Linked DNA regions of Homo sapiens. The protein of the gene in region 2 purifies or fractionates together with the protein of the main gene of each other region. This does not show direct contact. Each region holds a gene or a part of one and is shown on either strand. Other genes may lie near its edges. The genes, in order: CA5B, NT5C3A and L2HGDH.

Region 1 (3,653 bases), on a different chromosome or scaffold from region 2:
CTAAATAGCTTTCTCAGGCAGTTTTGATCATTCTCAGCTAAGACATGTAAAAATGTTAACTTCTCTCATCTCAAATAATATAGTTGAAATGAACCTTAAGATCCTGAAACTGAATTCTTCTGGAATTCGAAAGTGGACTCAAATAGTAGCCCAAAGTAATAACCCAGGGAACATTGTGGAGCCACAGGTTGAATTAATGCAAGTTTGCGGTGGTGGGAGCCTAAATGAAGGCTGTGGCAATAGAAATAGAGAAAAAGGGCAAGATTTATCAAGCATTTCTGAAATTAAAGCAACAGGACTTGAAGGTAGGGTTCTCTTCAGGATAGGAGAAGGCAAGGTTAACCACGACTTTGTGGTGTCTCACTTGGGAGGCTGGGTGATAATGCACTCATAACTGATGAATGAGGAATGATTTGTAGGGAAATAAAGGGAGATTTTAAGGAAATAGAATTTCTTCTTACAACTTTTTTCCTAATTCAATTGTAAATGTTATGTAAAAAAAGCCCATTTAAAAATTTATTTTATATTTTTTATATTTGTTTCATTTTATTTTGCTTTGTGAGACAGGGTCTCACTCTGTCACCCAGGCTGGAGTGCAGTGGCACAATCACGGTTCACTGCAGCCTCGACCTTAAGCAATCCTCCCACCTCAAGACAACAGGCGCACATCACCATGCCCTGCTAATTTTTTTTTTTTTTTTTTTTTTTTTGGGACAGAGTTTTGCTCTGTCGCCCAGGCTGGAGTGCAGTGGCGTGATCTTGGCTCACTGCAAGCTCTGCCTCCCGGGTTCACACCATTCTCCTGTCTCAGCCCCCCAAGTAGCTGGGACTACAAGCGCCCACCACTGCGCCCAGCTAATTTTTTGTATTTTTAGTAGAGATGGAGTTTCACCGTGTTAGCCAGGATGGTCTCGATCTCCTGACCTTGTGATCCACCCACCTCGGCCTCCCAAAGTGCTGGGATTACAGGCGTGAGCCACCGCGCCCGGCCTGCCCTGCTAATTTTTAAATTTTTTTGTAGAGACAAGGTTTCACTATGTCGTCCAGGCTGGTCTCATACTGCTGGATTCAAGTGATTCTCCCACCTTGACCTCCCAAAATGCTGAGATTACAGGTGTGAGCCACCACACCCAGCCTAAAAGCACATTTTAAATGGTTATTCCTTGAAGAAGAAATTTGTCTTTAACTCCTGCATAATTTCCATATGGAGGATCTATTTCTCTCAATATAAACATCTTCTCTCCTGTAGATGCAAGTGGATTTCGAATATTGGTATTTCATTCAAATCAAGATGGGACTGGACAAATGTTGATTGCTCACTGAAGTGTCACTTTGTTATATGAATTTTCTATTTTTCTCCCCAAATAAATCCCTTTATTCTAAAATAATATTAATTGCTGCTCTTGCCTAAATTTCTTCCTGATCTTTGTTTCTATCTCATTTTGGATTGTCATATGGTTTTCTTGGTGGCTTTACTTTGGGTGAGGAAACATGTTTAAATGTCATAGGTTGACTGAGGCTGTGGGTTTATTCTGGAGAGATTCTGTATAGTCACGTGTTAACCCTCTTTTCATGGTGTTTCAGCTGCACTTAGTGCATTGGAACGCAGTCAGATTTGAAAACTTTGAGGATGCAGCACTGGAAGAAAATGGTTTGGCTGTGATAGGAGTATTTTTAAAGGTAAAATATCTCACCAACTTTAAATGACGTGTTGTATTCTAGGATGAAAAGATAGAACAGTATAATATTGTTATTTACTTTAAGAATGTTGGGATCCATACATTGGTAAGATAAATAGTGCTTGAAGTACAGGATTGTTAAGAATATATTTTAGGGCCAGGCATGGTGGCTCACGCCTGTAATCCCAGCACTTTGGGAGGCCGAGGCAGGCAGATCACTTGAGGTCAGGAGTTCGAGACCAGCCTGGCTTCCATGGGGAAACCCTGTTTCTACTAAAAATACAAAAATTAGCCAGGCATAGTGGTGCGCACCTGTAATCCTAGCTACTCGGGAGGCTGAGGCAGGAGGATCGCTTGCTTGAGCCTGGGAGGTGGAGGCTGCAGTAAGCCAAGATTGTGCCACTGCACTCCAGCCTGGGCAACAGAGCGAGACTCCATCCCCCCCACCACCAAAAAAATATATATATTTTAAATGATATAAAAATGCACAGCCCAATAGAGTGGTCACAAGCCACATGTGGCAATTGAGCACTTGAAATGTGTCTACTGCAGTTCTGGAACCATTTTTCATTTTATTTAATTTTAATTTCAATTTAAGAACTTAAATGAAGCAGGGGGCACCTTTCACTGCAGGCATGCTGACCTTGTCAGCAAACAGCCTGCTGATTTGTTCTCTAATTTAATTCAGTAATGTTTATAAAATTATAAATTACAAGTTTAAGTGTAATTTCAGTCATGCAGTTTGTTTTTATGTAATCACCAGGTAGTTAATTTTAATTCACATTCTGTTACAGTTTCTACAGTGAGATGTCCATTGTTTGTAATATTTTCTTACTTGTTGTTCTTTAGCTAGGCAAACATCATAAGGAGCTACAGAAATTAGTGGATACTTTGCCGTCAATTAAGCATAAGGTACTATTTGTTTTCCTTAATTACTTGAAATATACTTTTATGTTTCAATCTCAGAGCGGAGACATTACCAAGGCACTTTGAATTGGGAAGTTTAATTAGGTGAACTGTATTCAGCCTTAGAAGAAAACTTGCCATTTATGATTCCAGGGGACAGAAGTCATCATTCTGTGGGTAGGCAGTGAGCTTTCTGGTTTTGCTGCAGTGCCGCTGAGGACTTGGGGACTCAGGAACATATTGCTGTCCCCTCCTCTGTTCCTGACACCGGCTCCTTCTAAGTCCTTGTGAACACACCCAGAGCAGCCTTCTGTTCTGTAGCTGCCATCCCACAGGCAGGGAGCAGAGCGCAGTTCTACAGAAACTTGCCTTGTCCAGCTAGAAAGAACAGTAATCCACATCCTTCAGGTCGGATGCCTTTGTCCAGTCCCCCAATATTAATTCTTCAATATTCAGAATCTCAAAGGGCTGCTCTCTGGAGGCCCATATATTCTCTTCTTCTCCCTCTCATCCCCCACTGTATCCCTCTGGTCCCCACCTCTTTCCCTCTCCTTTCCTCTCTGGAAGCCCGTATATTATCTCCCCCCATCCCCCACTCTGACCTTCTGGTCCCTACCTCTTTCCCTCTCCTCTCATCTCCATTTTCCTGTTTTTCCCTCTCTTTCCTTTTAGTTCAGGTTTCTGGCTCCTCCTGAGCTGCATTTCTTCTTAAAAGGACAATTCTCAGTTAGCCTCTCGAAAATGCAAAGCCTCCAACCGGGCGCAGTGGCTCACGCCTGTAATCACAGCACTTTGGGAGGCCGAGGCTGGCGGATCACGAGGTCAGGAGATCGAGACTGTCCTGGCTAACACAGTGAAACCCCATCTCTCCTAAAAAATACAAAAAATTCGCCGGGCATGGTGGCGGGCGCCTGTAGTCCCAGCTACTTGGGAGGCTGAGGCAGGAGAATGGCGTGAACCCGGGAGGCGGAGCTTGCAGTGAGCCGAGATTGCACCACTGCACTCTAGCCTGGGCGACAGAGCGAGACTCTGTCTCAAAAAAAAAAAAAAAAAAAGAAAAAAGAAAAG
Region 2 (3,653 bases):
AAAAGTGAAATATTCCTAGTAATTCTATGGCTCACTCATATTCTCATTTCAATATACTGCCCAAGAGGGCTGTTATTGATATCTACAATACTACAAGTTTTTCAAACAACAGTTAACTCTTTACTTTCCCTTTAATCAATTCTAATACTACAAACTAGATGTCTTTAAGCTTTCACTGAATATGAATATAAACCTACAGTTCACAATTTATACCATTTAAAAAGAAATAGGCAGGCATAGCAGTGCATGCCTATAGTCCCAGCTATTTGGGAGGCTGAGGCTTGAGGATTGCTTGAGCCCAGGAGTTCTAGTCCACTCTGGGCAACATAGCGAGACCCTGTCTCTAAAATGAAATTTAAAAAGAGAAAACAATAGTTAAGCTACACCTTGAAAACCCCACTTAGGGGTTAAAACATGGATATATTAACACTGAGAAGGATGGAGTCCCATAGTGGGCCTATCAACTTGGCCTAACTTAATGGATATATATTGACCAACAACAAATACATTTACATGATTAAAATATTTTCAGATTTTAAAATTATGAAGAATGACTTGATATTCTTACAGTTTCATCAAAATCCATAAAATTGAAAAGAAAAGCAGAGTGGCAGGAACTTAGATGTATTCTCGACATCTGGCATGTGTCTTTACTAAGATCTTAAGCCCTCTTCCCTTTTTTACCCTTCCTGGGCCATAGGTTAAAGAATGCTAATGTTGCCTACTAAGGAATGAAACACTTACTAGCTGTCCTCACACTTTTTCTGACAATTTATTGCTTTCCTTTTTAGAAGTAATCACCTTAAAATATAACATCATCATAAAAAAGTAACATCATCATATTTGCCTAATGAGTTGAAAATTTTACGAGGTAATAAACAGTATTAAACAGGCTCTTGGGCCGGGCGCAGTGGCTCACGCCTGTAACCCCAGCACTTTGGGAGGCGGAGATGCGCAGATCACAAGGTCAGGAGATCGAGACCATCCTGGCTAACTCGGTGAAACCCCGTCTCTACTAAAAATACAAAAAATTAGCCGGGCGTGGTGGCGGGCGCCTGAAGTCCTGGCTAGTCAGGAGACTGAGGCAGGAGAATGGCGTGAACCTGGGAGGCGGAGCTTACACCACTGCACTCCAGCCTGGGTGACAGAGCGAGACTCCATCTCAAAAAAAAAAGAAAAAAAAAAGCTTCTTGTATCTTATAACTCATGCATACATATATAATTATGTACTAAAACATACTAATCTTTCCTAGGAATAGTTTTCAAAGAAGTTCGAGAATTTAAAAAGTAGGCTTATGTAAATTTAGACATAGTATACTGCCAGGCATGGTGGCTCACACATATAATCCCAGCACTTTGGGATCGCTTGAGCTCAAGAGTTCAAGACCAGTCTGGGCAACATGGTGAAATCCCATCTTTACAAAAATATACAAAAATTAGCCAGGCATGGTGGTGCATGACTGTAGTCCCAGCTACTTGAGAGGCTGAGGCAAGGGGATCGCTTGAGCCCAGGAGGCAGAGGTTGAACTGAGGAAGAGATTATGTCACTACACTCTAACCTGGGCAACAGAGAGAGACCCTGTCTTTAAAAAAAAAAAAAAGTATACTTAAATCCCTTTTAACTTGATTTATACATTCCTTTCATATGTCTTTCCTAAGTATTTTGCTAAAAAATTTTTAAATGGCCTTGGTTCAAAAATTTTAAGTCTTGACATTTTTAATCTGGAGAAACAAAATACAAATTAGAATTTAAATCTCATAAGGCTCTTACTACCTACACCAAGATCTAATACGTCATTCTAAATTCCTTATCTTACCACTATGTATTTTGTGATAGGTGGCATATTTTGGATATGGTTATATAAGGAATATTCAATCTTATTTTTAAAAAGTACAACTGACTACATAAATAGCAATAATTCAAGTCTGTGAACAATAACAGCAAAAAACATCCAAGAAACTTACTTGAGCATAACGTCAGATTCTGCCACAATTTCTTTAAGTTTAGCTTTTGGTAAAGCTTGCTGAACAAGCAAACCATGTGATTTAGTATACCTGGAGTTTATGACCAAAGGAAAAAAGACTATCAATTAAGACAAACTAAAATTATTATCTTTATTACAAAACATTCTTCCATGTGAGAAAATCTGTTCCTCATATTTGGATTTAAATTTTAGAGATTGAAGTTCATCACTAATGAATGTATACCTCATGTCTCAAAATGTGATATGCATGTTCTTACTGAGTTTCCCAGTCCTCCCAAACCCAGACTTAGCTTAAATATGTTAGTAAGGTAATGAAAGGAAACTAGCTATAAACCTTTCCTAATTCTACACATAAAAACTCAACCCAACCTATGGAAGCATAATCCTTTCTCTGATTGCAGTAAAATGAATTAGAGCAACCCCATTTTTAAAATTTGTTTGTAGTTTGAATTTTCTACATACTGAAGATGCTACTTAGTGAACAAGAGAGAAAATCTTTGTTATGGCAAGTGTCATATACAGATTAGCCTGCTTTATGTAGAAAACACCTATAATCATAGCATCTCAGTATAAAGGGCCCTTAGACTCTCTAACCCATTACAATTATGCAAACAGCCACTAAAAACAGAAAGAAAGAAACGAAAAGAAAAAAAAGCCTAACTCTTCATCTGATACCTAAAAATACCCCTATAATATTCCTAAGTCACCTTCTTCCCTGCCTGGGTCAGCTTCTAACATGTCAGTAAGCTCATTCTCCCAGGGAAGCTTATTCCATTGCCAGAAAACTCTTAATTGCTAGACAGGCTTTTCATTTCTCATGCTGAAATCAATCTTCTTATATCTTCCAAGTCTAGTTCCAGTTCTGCTGCTACCAGTTTGTAGAGTTAAGTCTAATATCTTTTCAACATTTAGTACCACAAATACAGATGAAGTATGCAACTGTTACGTAACGGGACAATAAAGACAAATCATTCCTGGTCTCCTAAGATTTTAAAACAAGTTGTTCCTTCTCAAATCAAAGCATTTTCTATTCCTTGAAATGTTCGTCAAGTGGGAAGGCTCAAATTCCTCTGATCATTCTGGTGGACTACTCTGACTCCTTTTAAGTTTGTCATGATCTATTTTTTTTTTTTTTGGTCACTATTGTCATGGTTTCTCTTAACAGCATTCTTCCAGAATCCGACACAGTGCTTTCAGTGTGATCTGCCTGGAACACTGCATTTTGATTAATGCAACCAAAGGTCGATTTTTGGGTAACCATATCACCTGCTGGCTCTGAGTTCAGACTCAGTTTAAATCCTCATACCTTTTCTTTACACATTAAGCCACGTTTTGTTCATATACTTAAAAAAAAATTCTTGTTTTTAATTTGAGACTTAAATGCAGGACTTTTAATTTATTCCTACTGGACTTCACCTTAAATAAACAAAACAAAAGGATTCCTAAACTGTTAGAGAGATTAGATAATTAGAGCTCATTTTGTTATTCAATGCTCTAACTTGCATAATTTATTAATCTGTTTGTTTGCAATACAGGTAAAAAATAAGCCATCAGTTGTAACTGCAGTGTTGTTTTATTATTTTTTTTTAATCCTCCTACTGCCTAATATACACTTACCATTCCACCATATAAGGGTACTTCTCTTCTACAGTAAGAACAGGATCAACT
Region 3 (3,653 bases), on a different chromosome or scaffold from region 2:
AAGCATGGAATTTATTTTTTGTTGTTGTTTTTATTTTTTGAGTCAGGGACTCACTTTGTTGCCCAGGCTGGGGTATAGTGGCATGAACACAGCTCACTGTAGCCTTGATCTCCCGGGCTCAAGCGATCCTCCTGCCTCAGCCCCCAAGTAGCTGGGACTACAGGCACACACCATCATGCCCAGCTAATTTTTGTATTTTTTGTAGAGATGGGGTTTCATTCACTATGTTGCCCAGGCTGGATTTTTTTTTTTTTTTTTTTTTTTTTTGAGACAAGATCTTGCTCTATCATCCAGCCTGGAATGCAGTGTCATGAACATAAGCTCACTGCAGCCTAGACCTCCTGGGCTCAAGTGATCCTCTCACCTCAGCCTACTGAGGAGCTGGAACTACAGAGGCACCAGACCCAGCTAACTTTGTGTAGAAACAGGGTTTTGCCATGTTGCCCAGGCTGTTCTCAAACTCCTGGGCTACAATCTACCTGCCTTGGCTTCCCAAAGTGCTGGCCACGGCCCCCAGCCTAACATTTTGAAAATTATTATTATTATTATTTTCTTGCTCTGTCACCCAGGCTGGAGTGCAGTGGTGCAATCTCAGCTCTCAGCTCACCTCCGTCTGCTCGGTTCAATTGATTCTCCTGCCTCAGCCTCCTGAGTAGCTGAGATTACAGGCATGCGCCACCATGCCTGGCTAATTTTTGTAGAAAATTATTATTTCTATGTTACATCATTTTAACAATGCAGTGGTTATCTTTGACCTAAAAACTAAAGTTTAAAAACCATTTTTTAAATTAAAGAATGCAATTAGTACATTCTTGTTGCTGACATGAAGATTACAGTGCATACCTAGCTCCTTTCATTATTTATAATTCAAATCTTTGTTGTACTTCATCTGCAATCATTCCAGAAATTGCAATGGAAGAAGTAGCAGCAGGAGAAGGTGCATTTCTCACATGAAGAATGCGATTTCCAATATCCCCAACTCCTGCATCAAATACAAAATCTTCTACCAGATTTCCATCTCTATCCAGGGCCTGGGCTCTTACTCCAGCTGGGCCCCTGCAAAAGTAAAAGATGGGAGTCAGCTGACTCAAAGACATAGGATACTTTACAAGTCAGCGTTTCCAAAAAGTCTTAAAGCAATAAAGTATTCTTCTAAATGCACAATTATATGGAAACCCAATGAGTTTATGTTTAACCAAAGGCTGTCAGTTGTAGCCTGTCAAACCTATATTGTTAGCTTAGAGCCTAAAACCTATTACGTAACAATAGTGTAACAAACGCTTATCAAAGAAATACATAAAAACAAGTAAGTTATTTATCAATGTCTGCTCTTTCCAAAGGTAGTAGGTAAATCCACACTTAATTAGAACAGGTATATTTTTATTTAAATTTATAGAATGAATTTATTATAAAAATCAATCAATGGCAACAATAAGCCTCATCTGAGTAATACAAATCAATGAAAGCAGAGGTTATGTGTCAGTTGCATTCCTGTATCCTATTCTACTTATTTTTGTGTTTTTAAAATTCACACAATTAAAATTTATGGAGAGAAATATTTGCAAATGGCAACAAGTTCTTGTTTTGCAGTTTGTTTTTAAGAGTTTACCCTTCAATATCAGGATCATCTTCAATTTCAAAAGATGATAGGAAAAGCATAAAAATAAATTTAGCAGCATGTTAATAAAATGAGAGTCTTTTTTTTTTTAATTGAGATAGTCTTGATCTGTTGCTCAGGTTGTGTACACAACCTCGCCTGGCTAATTAAAGAAAATTTTTTTTTGTAGAGACAAGGTTTCCCTACGTTGCCCAGGCTGGTCTCAAACTCCTGGCCTCAAGTGATCCTCCCACCTTAGCCTCCCAAAATGATGGGATTATAGGTGTGAACAACTGTAAAGACACTGATAATCTTTATTACTTAAAATTCTATTTTATAACATTTGAGCTCACAGATTTTTGTTGTTTTTTTAAACAGTTAAAATTTACAGATGAAATTTGAATCCAATGTTTTTGAACTACAAAAAAGCACCTCTTATGAAACTTGTCCAAGGAAGCCCAGTGTGAAAAATTCTATCTTATACACACCAGCAAGGCTCAAGAAATCAGGAAACAATATTAAACATTTTTTACTAATTCTGGGACAAATCAGATAAGTACTTGCAGAAGATACAAAGAACACTATGAAGGCACTGCCCTCTAAGACTTCAGCTGGCTGAAGAGAGATAATAGTAATAGCTATTATTTAGTAAGTGCTTACTCTGTGCTAGGAATTACCTCATTTAATCCTCAAAACAACTCTTAAGAGGCTGACACAGTTTATATTTAACAGCAAAGAAACACAGAGAGATTAAGTAACTTGCCTGAAATCACAGAGCTATACTATTCATTCGTAGAGAGGTAAATAAGAATTATAACAGTAAGAGTGAAAGGTTGTATGATAAAGATAAGTGATCTTCCCTATAGAATCCTGCAGGGAATCTGGACAAGAGATTTTTTAGCTGTAAGAATTTCCAAGTAAGAATCAGATATGGGAGTGAGTGGAGCAAGACGGTGGAAAAGAAGCCTACAAACATTGGTTCGGCTGCTAGAACACCAAATTTTAACTATCTGCACACAGAAAAGCACCGTCACAAGAACCAAAAATCAGGTGAGCAATCACAGTGGCTGGTTTTGACTTCATATCTTTGAAAGAGGCATTGAGGAGGGCAGAAAAGATGGTCTTGCATCGCCAATGCCACCCCTCCCTCACCCCCTAGCAGCAGCCAGCCATGTGGTGTGGAGACAGAACCTATGCACTTGGGAAAGGGAGGGTACAGTGGCTGGGGGCCTTTACACTGAACTCAGTGCTGCCCTGTCACAGTGGAGAATAAAGCTGGGCTGGGCTCAGCCAGCGCCAGCACATGGAGGGAGCATTTGGACCTGCCCCAGCTAGACAGGAAGCATCCATCCCAGTGGTCAGAACTTGAGTTTCCCTGCAAGCCTCACCACCGTGGGCTGAAAAGCTCTGGGGTCCTAGATAAACTTGAAATACAGTCTAGGGCACAAGGACTCCAACTCCTCAGCTACTAGCACTAGGCTGGGCTTATAGTCAGTGGACTAGGGTGGCATGTGATCTAGGGAGATACCAGCCGGCATAGCTAAAAGAGTGCTTGCATCATCCATCCCCCAAACAAAGGCAGCTGCAATAGAAGTGACTCCTTTCTTCTGCTTAAGGAGCAAAGAGCAAAGAGTAAAGAGGACCGTCTTACATCTTGGATTCCAGCTCAGCCACAGTAGGATATGGCACTGGGCAGAGTTGTGAGGCCCGCATTATAGGCCCTAGCTCCTGAACAACATTTCTAGACCCACCCCGGGCCAAAAGGGAACCTACTGCCTTGGAGGGAAAAACCCAGTCCTAGCAGGATACATTACCTGCTGACTAAAGAGCCCTTGGGCCCTGAATAACCAGCAGCGATACCCAAGGAGTGCGTCATGGGCCTTGGATGAGACTCTGAGATGTGCTGGCTTCAGGTGTGACCCAGCACATTCCCAGCTGTGGTGGCTACAGTGAAAGACTCCTTCTGTTTGAGAAAAGCAGAGATAAAAGTAAAGGGGACTTTGTCTTACACCTTAGGTACCAGCTCAGCCACAGTGAGGTAGAGCAACAAGCAGGT

Evidence for each region.
Region 1: the proteins of NT5C3A (region 2) and CA5B fractionate together in Homo sapiens (co-fractionation; one large-scale study listed by BioGRID). This does not show direct contact.
Region 3: the proteins of NT5C3A (region 2) and L2HGDH purify together in Homo sapiens (affinity purification with mass spectrometry; one large-scale study listed by BioGRID and IntAct). This does not show direct contact.

Annotation. Positions count from the first base shown.
Region 1 is NC_000023.11:15,772,718-15,776,370, forward strand, and holds part of CA5B (carbonic anhydrase 5B, mitochondrial precursor), read left to right. Parts: intron 1-1,584; coding exon 1,585-1,680; intron 1,681-2,528; coding exon 2,529-2,591; intron 2,592-3,653. UniProt on the Homo sapiens protein: Mitochondrial carbonic anhydrase that catalyzes the reversible conversion of carbon dioxide to bicarbonate/HCO3.
Region 2 is NC_000007.14:33,017,670-33,021,322, forward strand, and holds part of NT5C3A (cytosolic 5'-nucleotidase 3A), read right to left. Parts: coding exon 3,603-3,653; intron 2,056-3,602; coding exon 1,966-2,055; intron 1-1,965. UniProt on the Homo sapiens protein: Nucleotidase which shows specific activity towards cytidine monophosphate (CMP) and 7-methylguanosine monophosphate (m(7)GMP). CMP seems to be the preferred substrate.
Region 3 is NC_000014.9:50,246,198-50,249,850, forward strand, and holds part of L2HGDH (L-2-hydroxyglutarate dehydrogenase, mitochondrial isoform 1 precursor), read right to left. Parts: intron 1,057-3,653; coding exon 861-1,056; 3' UTR 1-860.